Homo sapiens: one gene and its partner. The protein of the gene in region 1 interacts with the protein of each later gene in a biochemical or structural test. Each region holds a gene or a part of one and is shown on either strand. Other genes may lie near its edges.

What was found. Proteins that work in one complex are often made in the same cells at the same time.
Region 2: the proteins of NOTCH4 (region 1) and MAML1 form a complex in vitro, tested with the Homo sapiens proteins (one study listed by BioGRID).

The regions. Positions count from the first base shown.
Region 1 is NC_000006.12:32,221,045-32,228,517, forward strand, and holds the start of NOTCH4 (neurogenic locus notch homolog protein 4 preproprotein), read right to left. Parts: upstream 3,024-7,473; 5' UTR 2,885-3,023; coding exon 2,812-2,884; intron 2,043-2,811; coding exon 1,961-2,042; intron 1,763-1,960; coding exon 1,467-1,762; intron 282-1,466; coding exon 1-281. UniProt on the Homo sapiens protein: Functions as a receptor for membrane-bound ligands Jagged1, Jagged2 and Delta1 to regulate cell-fate determination.
Region 2 is NC_000005.10:179,763,822-179,770,845, reverse strand, and holds part of MAML1 (mastermind-like protein 1), read right to left. Parts: intron 5,521-7,024; coding exon 4,105-5,520; intron 1,997-4,104; coding exon 1,757-1,996; intron 1-1,756. UniProt on the Homo sapiens protein: Acts as a transcriptional coactivator for NOTCH proteins. Has been shown to amplify NOTCH-induced transcription of HES1. Enhances phosphorylation and proteolytic turnover of the NOTCH intracellular domain in the nucleus through interaction with CDK8.

The DNA.
Region 1 (7,473 bases):
CGAACAGCCCCTAGGAGGGCAGGGTCCTGCCCGCAGCTCACAACGTGGACCCTCCTGCCCCACAGGGCAGAGGCACTGGAAGGAGCCCAGGGTGTTATGGCAGGAGGTGCCTTTGGGGCAGGGTCCTGGGTCCTGGAAGCACTCGTTGACATCACGTTCACAGGCATGGCCCTCGAAGCCCGGTGGGCAGTGGCACTGGATCTGGGGGTATGTGGCCAGACACACCCCTCCATTAACACATGGGTTGGCTGAACAGAAGTCCCGAAGCTGGCACTGCTCACCTGAGGCAGAGGACAGAGGGAGCCGTTTCTAGCATTGTACGAATTCTAGCCCATCTGAGGTTACCCAGTGCTCACTCTGGATTATCTCTGGGTCTCATTTTCATATTTCCTTCCCTTTATTACCATACTTTCTTTGCTCTGTTCCATCACCCCTGCTCTGAGCGATGTCATGGCTTGGGAGGGTTTATCTGGAGTGACCATATCTTCTAAAGTGATGATGAGAGTATTGCAAATTGGCCTTGCCTGAGAAAATCTGGGACGTGGGTGATCTTGGGGGAGGTGAAAAGCACCCCACGTCTGCAGGCAGGAGACTCAGGTGGCACCATGCTGTGCCACAACTGGTTGTATACCCTTGGGTGAGCCACTTTGCCTTTCTGATCCTCATTTCCTAATCTTTAAGTGGGTTTAGGCACCTGGAGACTCACTTCACAGTCCATGTGCACCAGTGGTAATGGCGGCAGCAGTGGAGGTGCCAGGTGCTGAGCTGAGCAAGCATCTCCTGAGCATCGGCCCCTTCTGTCCTCTCAGCAACCTTATGAAGTGTGACCATTACTCTCCCTGTTTGTCAGCTGACAACTGAACACCAGAAAGCTAAAATATCTTATATGAGGTCATGTAGCTGATCAGTGGCAGAGCTAGCATTTGGATCCAGGGGCTGGTGCAGAGCCCCTAGAATGAAGCACTAAGCTTGCCCCAGGGTTACACCCCTCCTCCTGGGGCGGCCCCCAATCCACTCTCTGGGTCACATCCTTCCCTTCCCGGTGCCCCTCCCACCACTGCAGTCTTCCCAGGTGATATAATGGCTCCCTCCACTCAGAATGGGAGCCATTCAGATGCTCAGAATGCAAAAGTCTGGAGGACCCCTGGTATGCAGAGCAATGACCCTCTTCTAGCTGCTAGGCAATGGGGAGATTAAAGGGGCTAGAACAGGCATCAGGATGGTGCACAAAGGGGGCTCATGGCACCCTTAATTTGGAAATATTTTAACATTTTAGCAATCAGTACAACCATGCTGGTGAATGTTGGTTGTGGGTAAGTGGATTGCCAAGAATTGGCATGTTGATTCTCATGGCTTCTGTCTTCAAAGGGCTTGCAGTTTCTCAGGCTCCAGTTCTATCTTCCCCACCCACAGCCTAGCCCATTGCTCCTGCCTGTCCCCTCCTGGCTGCCCCCAGCAGCGCTTACCTGTCCATCCAGGCATGCAGGAGCACTGTGGGCGGCCCGAGGCCTGGATGTGGCAGCGGCCCCTTTTGGAACAGAAGGAGGGAGGACAAGGGTCTTCAAGCTTGGCCTGGCATCTCTCACCAGTGAAGCCAGGGAGGCAAGTGCACAAGAAGCTGGGTGTCAATGGAGAGGGAGAGCTGGGGAGCCCTAGGGGAGCGGGAAGCAGGGCTTGGCAGCTGCCTCCATTTTGGCAGAGCTGGGCGTTCTGGCAGGGGTCAGGAAACTGGCACGTCTCACCCAGGAAGCCAGGGGCACACCTGGGCAGGGGAGGAGAGGAAAACTCACATCACTGGTCCCTCTTCCTATTCTTGCCCACTCCCTCCTCTGCCTTCATTTGTTTCCCTTCATCTCCTTCACTTCCTCTCTTTCTTCTTTGGTCTCACTTCCTCACCTCTCCCCCCCTGCTCTCCCTCCCCCTTTCTCTCCAGTCTCCCACTCCTGCAAGGCACACTCACTGGCAGGTCCCTTGTCCCAGAGACAGGCTCAGGCAGGTGCCTCCATTGGCACAGGGTTCTGGGAAACTCCCACACAGCAGCCCTGAGGGTGGAGAGGCAGGCGCAATGGAAGCCCTGGGTGCTGTGCCTCCACCTTTCCTCTTCTAGGTGCTCCTGAGAGACCTGCCCACAGCAGCTCCCACAGGTACTCTAAACCACCTCTTCTTCACATCTGTCCCCACTCTCCACATGGTACCCAGCCCCAGCCCCAGTGCCCTCCGTCCCAGTTACTAATCCCTACCCCCCTTTCCTGTTTATTCTCTGGCCTCCCAAGTCCAGCCTCGGACTCCATCTCTCGGAAGCAAGACAACAGGGGTCAGAAGAGGGGCGGAGGTGGCTCCCGGGAGGTGAATGGCTGAGACTTCGAAGAGATTTCCTCCCGGAAAGGCCGAGCATTGAGCCATCCGGGGGGTGGGGACAGCTGGACTAAGAAAGGGCTTAGTAGGCCTGACCTTTCATGTCCCCATCTCCTGCTTCCCTCTCATCTCCTCCCCAAGCAGGTGGTCAGTGTGTTCCCTCTTCCCCTCTTCCCTATGGCTGCAAGAGTCCTCCAGTGCCAGTGCTGACGAGGTTCTTCCTGGAGGTGGGCACCCTCTCACCCATCCCCCAGCAGTCACCACCCCTGGCACCAGGCCCGAAGCAGCTCCATGGGCAGAGCCGTCTTTCCCTGGAGGCCGTCTCTATTTGGGCAGTGAGAATCTCCTCCATCCAGCATCCCTCACACGGCCTGGGGCTTGGCCCTCTTCCCCCACCCCACTGATCATCCTCCTAAGGGAGCTGGGTCCCCTCACCTCACCCACGCCATGCCTCACCTCTGGGTCTGACCACTGAGACACATAGCAGCAGCAGCAGCAGCAGCAGCAGCAGCAGTGAAGGGGGCTGCATTCCACAGCCCCTTCTCCAAGCCCCGGTCCCTGTCCCTCTTCAGGCAGGGACCCTCAGAGCTCTCACTGGGGCAGGAGCCACCTCCTCTGCTCCCACTGCCCCTCTTCTTCCTCCTCGGCCTGCTGCAAGCCTCACGTCTGAGCTGTTTCCTGAGTCACACAATGTCCTGGACACCCTAGTAATGGGGGGCGGAGGAAGAGTGGAGGAACACTAGGGGGGATGAAGGAGGGGCCTTCTGTCCCTGACAACCCCTGGGGAAGTAGGGGGAAGTAGGACGGTGTGCCTGGAGGGCAGGTGATAGGAGGGGAGAAGGAATCTCGGAACCCCCTGGGCAGTCCCAGCCCTGCTGTTTGTTGATCTGGTCTCTCCTTTCTAGGGATGAGAATTGCAAGGTGGCTGCCCTGTGCCCCAGGAGGGGCAGGACCTGGAAACAGGTATTGGGTGGTTACAGAGTTCTGTATTCCTCCTCCCAGGAGAGGATGCTTAATTTGCCAGGTTATTACAGATGCTTCTCAGAGAACCTGCAACTTGTCATAATTTGAAACCACTCACCTTGGCTAAAGGAACCCAGGGGCTTCTGGGCCTTATCTTGGCTCTTGCCAGGACTTATTTTTCTCCTTCTGGCAAATGGGCAAGATGCTGGCCGGTTTTGGGGAAATCTTGGTCTTCCTGTTGTAGGGGAATGTTAAGACTGTCATTATCAGTGATAAATGAACATAGTCTACCCTAAATTTTGCAGTCTGAATTGTCTGTAACAAACACTGAATTTGGGTAGTTTTCACTTCCTCCATCTCTGCCTCCCTCCGCTGTCAAGGTCCTTGGGATGCAGGGAATGCCAGTCAGAATGCAAAATTGGAGTCAATAAAATCACAAAAGAGAATTCTTTGCCTCAGAATGCTCATCCTACCTTCTTGAGTCAACCCAGGACAACTTTGGGGTCAACCACACACTGAGTTCCTTTAGTAGCACAGGGAACTGAGAGTCCAGGGTGGCAGAAGGTGTCAGTGGCAGCTGTGCTCTCCCTGGTGTTGAGGCACTCATGGCTGCTGCTGGTGCACCTGAGAGCCTTCCCCTACCGGGGAATATACTTCACCAGCACCACTTTCTTCCTTTTTTTAGCTTTTTATTTTAAAATACTTTTAATCTCATGGGAAAGGGGCAAAAATACTAAAAAGAATTCCAGGATACCCTTCACTCAGATTCATCCACTAATATCATTTGACCACATTTACTTTATCATTATTTCTCTATAAATACACATTTGTATTTTTTTCTGAACCATTTGAGAGTAAGTTGCATACAAGATACCCTTTACCCTTAAATCCATCAGTGCAAATTTTCTAAGAACAAAACATTCTTTTACATAATATAGTACAATTATCCAAATCAGGAAACTTAGACCGATGTAATACTATGATCTAATTGACAGTCCAAATTCAGGTCCTGCCAATTGCCCCATAATGTCCTTCATGACAATTTTTTCCTTTGGTCTAGGATCTCATTTGGCATCCTGCATTGCATTTAGCTGTCGAGTCTTTTTAGTTTCCTTTAATATGAGTACAGTACCTTAAATGTACTTTGCCTTTCATTATATTGACTTTTTTTTTTTTTTTTTTGAGACAGTCCAGGCTGGATTGCAGTGGCACGACCTTGGCTCACTGCAACCTCCACCGCCTGGGTTCAAGCAATTCTCGTGCCTCAGCCTCCTGAGTAGCTGGGATTACAGGCGCCCACCACCACGCCTGGCTGACTTTTTGTATTTTAGTAGAGACAGGGTTTCACCATGGTGCCCAGGCTGGTCTCAAACTCCTGAGCTTAGGCAATCCACCCATCTTGGCCTCCCAAAGTGCTGGGATTACAGGCGTGAGCCACCGCACCTGGCCGATACTGGCATTTTTAAGCATACAGGACAGTTGTTTTGTAGACTGTTCCTAAATTTGAGTATGTCTGGTGTTTATGCATTTTTGGGCACGAGTACCAGTGTATCACATTAGGAAGCCCGTGAGCCAGCATCATTTATAATGGTCACCCAGTATTCTACTAGTTCATTTAAACCAATTTCCTATTATAGCATGTTTAGGTGGGTCTCAATTTGCTTTCTGTTTTTTTAGAGACAGGGTCTTGCTCTGTCACTCAGGCTGGAGTGCAGTGGCACGCACATAGCTCACTATAACCTTGAATTCCTGGGCTCACGGCAACCTCCTTCCTCGGCCTCCCAAAGCTCTGGGATTACAGGTGTGTACCACCACACCTGGCCTTCAATTTTTAAACATATAATAAACTGAGCTGTGGTAAATATTCTTTTTTTTCTTTTTCTTCTTCTTTTTTTTTTTTTTTGAGATGGAGTCTCACTCTGTTGTCCAGGATGGAGTGCAGTTGTGTGATCTCGGTTCACGGCAACCTCTGCTTCCTGGGTTCAAGCTACTCCTGCCTCAGCCTCCTGAGTAGCTGGGATTACAGGCACATGCCTGGCTGATTTTTGTATTTTTAGTAGAGACGGGGTTTCATCATGTTATCCAGGCTGGTCTCGAACTCCTGACCTCAGGTAATCTGACCACCTCTTTCGGCCTCCCAAAGTGCTAGGATTATAGGTGTGAGCCACCGCGCCCAGACCTTCGGTAAATATCCTTGAACTTACATATTTGCATGGCTAATTATTGCCTTAGGCTAAATTCTAGAAGTGAAACCCCTGAGTGAAAGGGTGAAGACATAGACTTGTTTTAAAGCTCTTGGTCTCTATGTGTTGCCAAGCCATTCTCCAGAAAGCAGTGAGGCCTTTCTACTCCAGTTAGTAGTGTCTGCCTGTGTCCTTACTCTCGCCAACCCTCCACATTAGAATCCTCGCCACTTTGATAGATGAAATGGTCTCTTATTGCTCCTTTAAACTGCACATTTGTTGTTAAATGTCAACATTCTTTTTAACTGTTTAATGGCTATTCGTGTTTCCTGTCCATGCTTTTGTGAGTTTCCTGTCCATGCTTTTGTCCCATTGTCCTATTGGTGTCATTGTCATTTTCCCATCACCTTCCTTAGTCGAGGAGGCAATTGTGGGTATGGGGAAGAGGAACCCTAGTGTAAAAGTCCCTGCTTTTGTACTCTCTGGTTTGCTGACTGGGGATTTGGTGCTGGTGAGTAGTGAAAGGAAAATGGGAAGAGACAACAGGTTTCTCATGGAACCGCGAAGACCTTGGTGGAAAGAACTGAACTCACCATTTCTGCAATGTTGACAATCTAACACCATTTGTGGAAAGGGAGGCTGGGGCACTAGGCTGGAGCTTGAGAAAAAGGAGAAATTGCAACGGAGACAGAGAAGTGGTTAGGTGGAAGGGAACCAGAAGTGTGGTGGGCAGAAGCTGAGTTTAAAGACAGTGTCAGGAAGCTGCCTGCCCACTTCTTGCTTTATCCTGCTTAAGGTAAGGCAGTGTGCACCTGCTCAGGCATTATGAGCTATGCTTGGGTCCCAGATACTTTTCCTGGCCTCTAAGACCTTACAGCCCAAAGCAGTATTGATGCTCCCCCAAGAGCTTGTTTCTCCTTCCCAATGGTTTCCCAAGGGTTGATACTGACCAGGGTGGTACCATCATCACTACAGTGAACTGCAGCATGCCAGGGATACAGATAGTTCCCTCTGGGAAATGACCCTTTTTCCTACAGTATTTCATCAAATAGAGATTCATTTTATTAAAGGGATTTTCTTTCATTGTATACCCCCTGAGAAGGATAAACCTGTCAGTCATTCACACTTCAGTCATAGGGACTTGTGACCTTAAAAGGTGAACTCCGAGGTTGGCCCTGATAATGTGTCCAAACACAAAGAAGGCAATAGGCCACTGTAGCCATAGAGATAAGCAAGAGTGCCAGGTGCAGCGGTGGCTCATGCCTGTACTCCCAGCACTTTGGGAGGCCAAGGTGGGAGAATCACTTGATCCCAGGAGTTCAAGATCAGCCTGGGCAACATAGGGAAACCCCATCCCTATGAAAAAATACAAAAATTAGCAGGCCGTGGTGATGCACACCTGTTGCCCCAGCTACTTGGGAGGCTGACGTGGGAGGATCACTTGAGCCCAGGAGGTTGAGGCTGCAACGAGCCATAATCATGCCACTGCAATCCAGCCAGGGTGACAAGGTGAGACCAGAGTGAGAAAAAAAAAAAAAAAAAAGAAATAAGCAAGAGTAATCCACTCTTGGAGATTATTTGTAAATATATGGTTCGGGAGATATGGAGCCCCTCGTTGCCCCAGGCCCCTCCCTCTCTGCCTCCCTGTTGGTTACTCTTCATCTCTCCAACCTCTTACCATTGTAGTGTCCATGGTTATTCCCTGGGCCTCTTCTAGTTTTCTGTCTCCCTAGGTGATCTCATCCAGTCTCCTGGCTCCCTACCAGATTCAGATACCATCTATGAAGACCACCTTTGTGCTGATGACTCTCAAGATCATACACTTCCCGGAACTCCAGACTTGTACTTCCAAGTACAAGTACCACAAACTTAACATGTCCAGAACTGACCTGATCTTCTCCCTTAACCTTCTCTTCCTTCCTGATAGAATTGAGTTTTGCAGTTCTATTCTTTCCATTGTTTAGGCCCAAAT
Region 2 (7,024 bases), on another chromosome or scaffold:
CAAGTGGTTGGTGAGGATGTAGAGAAATCAGCACCCTCATACACCGCTGGTGGGAATGTAAAATGAGACAGCCTGTGGGAAACAGTCTGACAGTTCCTCCAAAGGTTAAACATAAAAATTACCATGTGATCCAGCAATTCCACTCCCAGGTATCTACCCAAGAAAAATGAAAACAGATGTCTATATGAAAACTTGTACATGAATGTTCATAGCAGCAATACTCATTAACAGCCCAAACAAGAAACCCAAATGTTCATGAACAGACGAATGAATAAAATGTAACATGTCCATACAATGGAATATTATTATCAAGAGGAATCAATTGCTGTTACCTAGCACATGATTGAAAATGACATAACATAAATATAAAATGTCCAGAACAGACAATTTTTTTTTTTTGAGATGGAGTCTTGCTCTGTCGCCCAGGCTGGAGTGCAGTGGCGCGATCTCTGCTCACTGCAAGCTCCCCTCCCAGGTTCACGCCATTCTCCTGCCTCGGCCTCCCGAGTAGCTGGGACTACAGGCGCCCGTCACCACACTTGGCTAATTTTTTGTATTTTTAGTAGAGACGGGGTTTCACTGTGTTAGCCAGGATGGTCTTGATCTCCTGACCTCGTGATCCGCCCACCTCGGCCTCCCAAAGTGCTGGGATTATAGGAGTGAGCCACTGCGCCCAGCCCAGAGCAGACAATTATAGAGACAGAAAGTAGATCAGGAGCTGGAGAGGCAGGGTGGATGGGAGAATGGCTGCTCATGGGTATGGGATTTGTTTTAGGGTAATGAAAATGTTCTAAAATGGATTGTGGTAATGGTTGCACAACTCTGTGATATACTAAAAATGACTAAATTGTTCACTTACGTGGGTGAAGTGTATGCTGTGTGAGTTACATCACAATAAAGCTGCTTTTCTTAAAGGCAGAACTGAGGCAGGGATTGTCCTCAATGAACCTCACTGTCTGGAGCCAGTTCTTATGTCTTAAAGATGTAATTTAAGGCCAGGCGTGGTGGCTCACGCCTGTAATCTCAGCACTTTGGGAGGCCGAGATGAGTGGATCACTTGAGGTCAGGAGCTCAAGACCAGCCTGGCCAACGTGGTGAAACCCCATCTCTACTAAAAACACAAAAATTAGCCAGGCATGGTGGTTCTTGCCTGTAGTCCCAGCTACTCGGGAGGCTGAGGCAGGAGAATTGCATGAACCCATGAGGTGGAGGCTGCAGTGAGCCAAGATCGCACCACTGCAGTCCAGCCTGGGTGACAGCAAGACTCTGTCTCCAAAAAAAAAAAAGAACTCTCACTTGTAACCCTTAGTGCCTGCACACTACACTTGCTAACCAAGCGAGTGAACTGTGTTTCCCTCAGGGATGACTTCACTTCCCTCTTCACGTTCTGGCTTATAACAGGCTCTGTAGTGGCAGCAAAGCTGACTCCATAGTGGAATGACAGACACGTGAGCTCAGTGGCTTGGAAGCTGCTGACCTGAAACATAGGAAAATGTCCCTTCCACAAACAGTTTTAGCCCCCGAGTCTGCCTTGAGTACTCTCCACTAAGTGACACGAAGCAGCTTCTGACAAGACTACCCCTGTCTGAGAAATGCCACATTCCTGGAAAGATGTTTTTAAAAGGCAAAGCACTCTAACAACAGGCACGCAAGTCTGCGCAAATCCACACGCACAAGCAGAAGGTGTGACTGTAGCAGTGACGCAGGGTGCAGGCAAAGGTGGGAAGCGGTGGTTTCCTTCCACTTTTCTTTTTACCTGTTCCGCGAGAAGGTGCTGTTGCCTCTGAAGGAACTGCTGTTGCTGTAAATGCTTTTGCTGCTGCTCCCTTTGTTTCTGTTGGTCCAAAAGCAACTGATGCTGCTTCATTACAGCGGCCTGTTGCTGGCTGCTGAGATAGGGGGAGCTGTTGTGGGAGCTGGCCACGGACACGGCAGGCGGCTGGGTCCCAACACTGGTAGCCTGGGCTTGCACAGGGACACTGGAAGGGTTCTGCTCCTGTCAACACAGATAGGGGACTGTGAAGTCTCTAAGCTCTGATCAGACCAAATAAGCTCCATCCAGTGAATTCAAGGTTCACTCTCTTGAAGCCAAGTCTCTGCTTCCCTTCTGACCTCGAATAACAACCATCCCACAGGGCTGGAGCACAGACCAAAAGTGATGACATCTGAGCATACAGGCGCCTAGCAACGAACAATTACTCCATAGGTGTTAGTTTTACTCCCAGTGATTCACCAGTGACAAAGGTATGGTTTTACGTTAAGCATATGTAAGCTTTCATATTTGCACACAATAGTTCCAGTAAGCAATCGAGGCTTAGAAATGCTCACTTATCAGGACATCTGAGTGCAGAGCGGGCCAATAGGGGAAGAATACTTTTTGTTTTTTTTCAGACGGAGTTTCGCTCTTGTTGCCCAGGCTGGAGTGCAATGGCACGATCTTGGCTCACCGCAACCTCTGCCTCCCGAATTCAAGCGATTCCCCTGCCTCAGCCTCCTGAGTAGCTGGGATTAGAGGCATGTGCCACCACACCTGGCTAATTTTGTATTTTTAGTAGAGATGGGGGTTTCTCCATGTTGGTCACGCTGGTCTCGAACTCCCGACCTCAGGTGCTCCACCCACCTCGGCCTCTCAAAGTGCTGGGATTACAGGCATGAGCCACTGCACCCGGCCTAGGGGAAGAACACTTTGAAGGGGGCTTTGGTCAATGGAGACCACTCTGTCCCATGTGCATAAACCTTGGATTTCGGGCTATCCCTGAACGACCCGAAACTGTACATCTGCGCAAGCATTTTACTGGAAGAGACTGCTTAGCTTTTGTCAAATACCCATCCTCAAAAAATACTGAGAATCAATGAGAACTTTAACAGATATTCTCTGTCAATATATAGACCACAAGTGAGAGTCATGTCAAAGGCCACCACAATATTATCCCGTCATTACTGACACTTAGAAGAAAAGGGGAACTTAGCAGAAGATAGGCAAAAAGCAATCATTATTTAAACCAGTTCAAATTGTTGAGCTCCTTTCTAGTTATTCATTCTAAGATTCTGGTATAATTTCTTCACTCTAATCACCAGAAGCTTAAGAACTACTGAGAGTGCTTCGTAAGTTGCAAAGTGCTACCCAGATGGCAAGCACCCTCACTGTGTGCAGCTGAGCCTCTCTTCAGGGGGTGCTGAACGGCGTGAGACATCTTACTGGCTGAAGTAAGTGGAATTATCAGCACTGGGAGATGCTTAAATGGCTTACAGTTTTTGGCTATTAGAAATAACCACACAATGAATATCTTGGATATAACTTTTTCTTTTATTTTGGATTATTTCTTTAGATCAACTTGTCGGGTATATAGTGTGTCAATGCATATGAACATTTTACAGCATGTGAAAAATACATAATGTCAAATGACTTCCCAAAAGCAGTGAGCTCATTTACACACTCTCATCAATACAGGAGTGTGTCTATTTCCTCATGATATTACCGGCACTGGGCTTTTTAATTTGCAAAATTTTAGCATGTATTACAAATTCACGTTCACTGCAGGCTTATCTGCACTAGCGGAAAACAGGAAACAACCCGAAGGGCCATTTTCCATTTGATGCTACCGGGCTTTAGAACCATGATGAAGTAAGCACAGAGCTGAGCTGTGCTGGGAAGCAGCACATGCCTACAATGTTATAAGCTTACCAAAAATTAGGGAATTTTGTACATGGAGATCTGAAAGGTAGTAAAAAAAAAAAAAAAAAAAAAAAGCCAAGCCTCTAAGAAGCACGTGAAACGTAATGTTTATCTGCAAAACACAGTCGCAAATTACTTAATTTAAATCCTACGGCACGAAAGAGACAGTGGACTAAATGCAGGTGATTCCTGAAACCTTCGTGCAGTTAATAATCAAGCTATGCCAGGGAACTTTACCCTATTTTTTATTAACAATCAACCCTGGTTTATTTTATAAATTTCCACTCCCAAGAGGAGCAAGGATGACAGCAGCTATTCCCTCCTCCCTCTTCCCACAACTACCTCGGATCCAATTAACATCCAAAGTAGTGAGTAACCTCACTGAAGTGTCTGCAGCAGAGGAACAGAAAGCAAAGGCTCATACTTACCTGGCCAGGTGGAACCAGTGATCGGAAAGGCATATTTCCTGGCTTTGGCTTCATCAGAAACAGGGAGTTCTGCTCGTGACTTATATGGGACAGCTGCTGGGGAAGATAAGCCATCAGGGCTGGCTTGCTCTGGCCAGACCCCGGGCTGCCTTGCCCACAGTCCGCTTTGTAATGAGAAAGGGGTTTTGTATTGCCGTAGTCCAGCACAGACCCCTGGTTATTCGCGGAGTTCTGATTCAAGTTACTCGGTGGCTGGTGACTCAGCAGGTTCACATGGCTGGGCTGGAGGTAGGGGCCTCCGGGCCGAGGGGAACTCTTATTCACACTAGGCATCATGAGCAGTTTGGAGTTAGTGAAGTCTTGCTTGTAGCTGGAAGGGCTGGCAGGCTTCTCCATGGGGTAAGGGACATCTAAGGAACTGTGGGAGGGCCCCGTCTGCTGCCATGTGGACATCTGGCCCGGGGCTGGTGCCGGGGTGGCCTGCTGTGGGTTCTGGAGCATCTGCTCGCGCTTCTGCTTGGCAGCGATCTGCTGGAGCTGGTGGGCAGAGGACAGCTCTGAGGCCCCTCCTGGGCCCTGACTGGGCAATACCACACCTGCAAGGGCTCTTTGTGCGTTCTGGGCCTGGGCTGATGCCGGCATCAGGTTTGGACTGGGATTGTCCGCCCGGGGCTGACCAGAGGTGTGGAATAAGGTTTGGGAGCCCCCTAGGCTGGGGGAATCTGTACTCACAGGGGCAGAGGAAGGCCCCAGAAAGGTCTGCCCTGCAGACCCGGCCCTCACTTGTGGAGAGCCTAACTGTTCTTGCTCAAAGGCTGCTGGAGAGAATTCCGTCTTAATATTAATGTCCTGTGCCAAGGGGGTTTGTGTGGCAGAGCCAGAAGACTCTGGGTCCTTCTTCTCCTCGAAGTCCTCATTAAACAGGTCCTTCATGTCTTCATCGGGCACCGACCTGTTCAGCTCCTCGATGAGCTCCTTCCACTCCTGCTCGTTAAGGTTGAGGTCTGGCATGAGGTTGCTTTGCGATATGGAGCCGACAGTCCCAGTGATCATGCAAGGCAGGTCTTCGACAGGCTCCTGCTTCAGTTCTTTATTCAGGCTCAGAGGAAATGACTCACTGGGGTTACTGCCTCCATTCAAGTGAAGGCTGGAGTCAGCCAGACGCTTTTTGTTGAGAGAGTCTAGCCCCAGAGAGTGCTTCCCACTGGACTGCAGGGCGTCGGCTCCAGAAGGCTTGTCAGACTGACCGAGGGGGGAGGCTGGAGGCAGTCCATTGGAAGAGATGGCAACTCCCAGAGGGGCCTCCCGGCGAGTCTTCTTATGCCCAGGAAAGAGGTCCCCGTAGCCATTCTGTTGATCGCCATTCTGAGGGGAAGTGGCGCTGTCAAGATTCCTCTTAACTGTATCATGAAGATGCTGAAAAACATTGAAAAGAATGACTTAAGATACATATGAATTTGCTCTGCTATGACAGTAACAAGCCAAGGGCTGATGTCCCTGCAATGCTCGCCAGTGGGTTCTGCTTGCATAGTGTACACTCCCATTTCTGGGGACACACCTCCATTTTCCCTGACGGTCCTATACCTGGCCAGTCAGAACTGATGTCTAGCTAAAGTGCTTCTGCAGTCCTCTTTCTGCAGGAGACAGGCATGAGGCTGCCCACAGCCATCTCGTCTGGCGGTATGCCCAAGAATGGAGCCAACAAAAAAATGCCAGAGAGTACACACACACACACACACACACACATATATATATTATATATATATATATGTTTTGAGATGGAGCCTTGCTCTGCCGCCAGGCTGGGTGGAGTGCGGTGGCACAATCTCAGCTAACTGCAACCTCCGTCTCCTGAGTTCAATCAATTCTCATGCCTCAACCTCCCAAGTAGCTGGGATTACAGATGTGCACCACTGTGCCTGGCTAACTTCCGGTATTTTTTGGTAGGGACGGGGTTTCACCATGTTGGCCAGGCTGGTCACAAACTCCTGGCCTCAAGTGATTCACCCGTCTCAGCCTCCCAAAGTGCTGGGATTACAGGCATGAGCCACTGTGCCCAGCCCCTCACTTTTTTTTTTTTTGAGACAGAGTTTCGCTCTTGTTGCCCAGGCTGGAGTGCAATGGCGTGATCTTGGCTCACAGCAACCTCCGCCTCCAGGGTTCAAGCCATTCTCCTGCCTCAGCCTCCAGAGTAGCTGGGATTACAGGCATGTGCCACCATGCCCAGCTAATTTTGTATTTTTAGTAGAGACGGGGTTTCTCCATGTTGGTCAGACTGGTCTTGAACTCCAGACCTCAGGTGATTTGCCCACCTCAGTCTCCCAAAGGGCTGGGATTACAGGTGTGAGCCACTGCGCCCGGCCGGCCCCTCACTACTTCTTATTGGGACTATTTGCTTGAACATAATCTGTCTGGTGTGACACTGTGACTCTGCTTCCCATCTGCTCCTCGATGGATTCATGCCACTGAAGTTATTAAGATTCTGCCTTGTGCCAGAGACAAGTGCTGTGGGGAACATAAAGACAAAGAAGACAGCTCCTCCTCGGGTGGGCTTTCAGGACATGGGACATACACAGACAGGGCTACAGAGTGAGAGCAGCACACAGTAAGTACCCTGGGAGTTCAGGGGCGGCGATTTCAAGATAAGAACATGTCAGAAGGGATGGGAAGGGGACAGAAGACGGACTCCTTCTACTGCTTCCTCACCTGCATGTGCTGCAGTCAGGACTCAACTCCACTGCTCAGAGGGAGTGCCTATGCTCAGCTTCCAAACACATGCTGCTCCTTTCCTGTGTTTACTTTATTACGTTTTTGTCCTTTATCCCCCACCCCCAGTACCATCCCCCCTTCCCATAAACCCTAAGCATCTATAGCATGTTATTAGAAAATGTTCCAAGTAACAGCCCTCATTATTATCTTT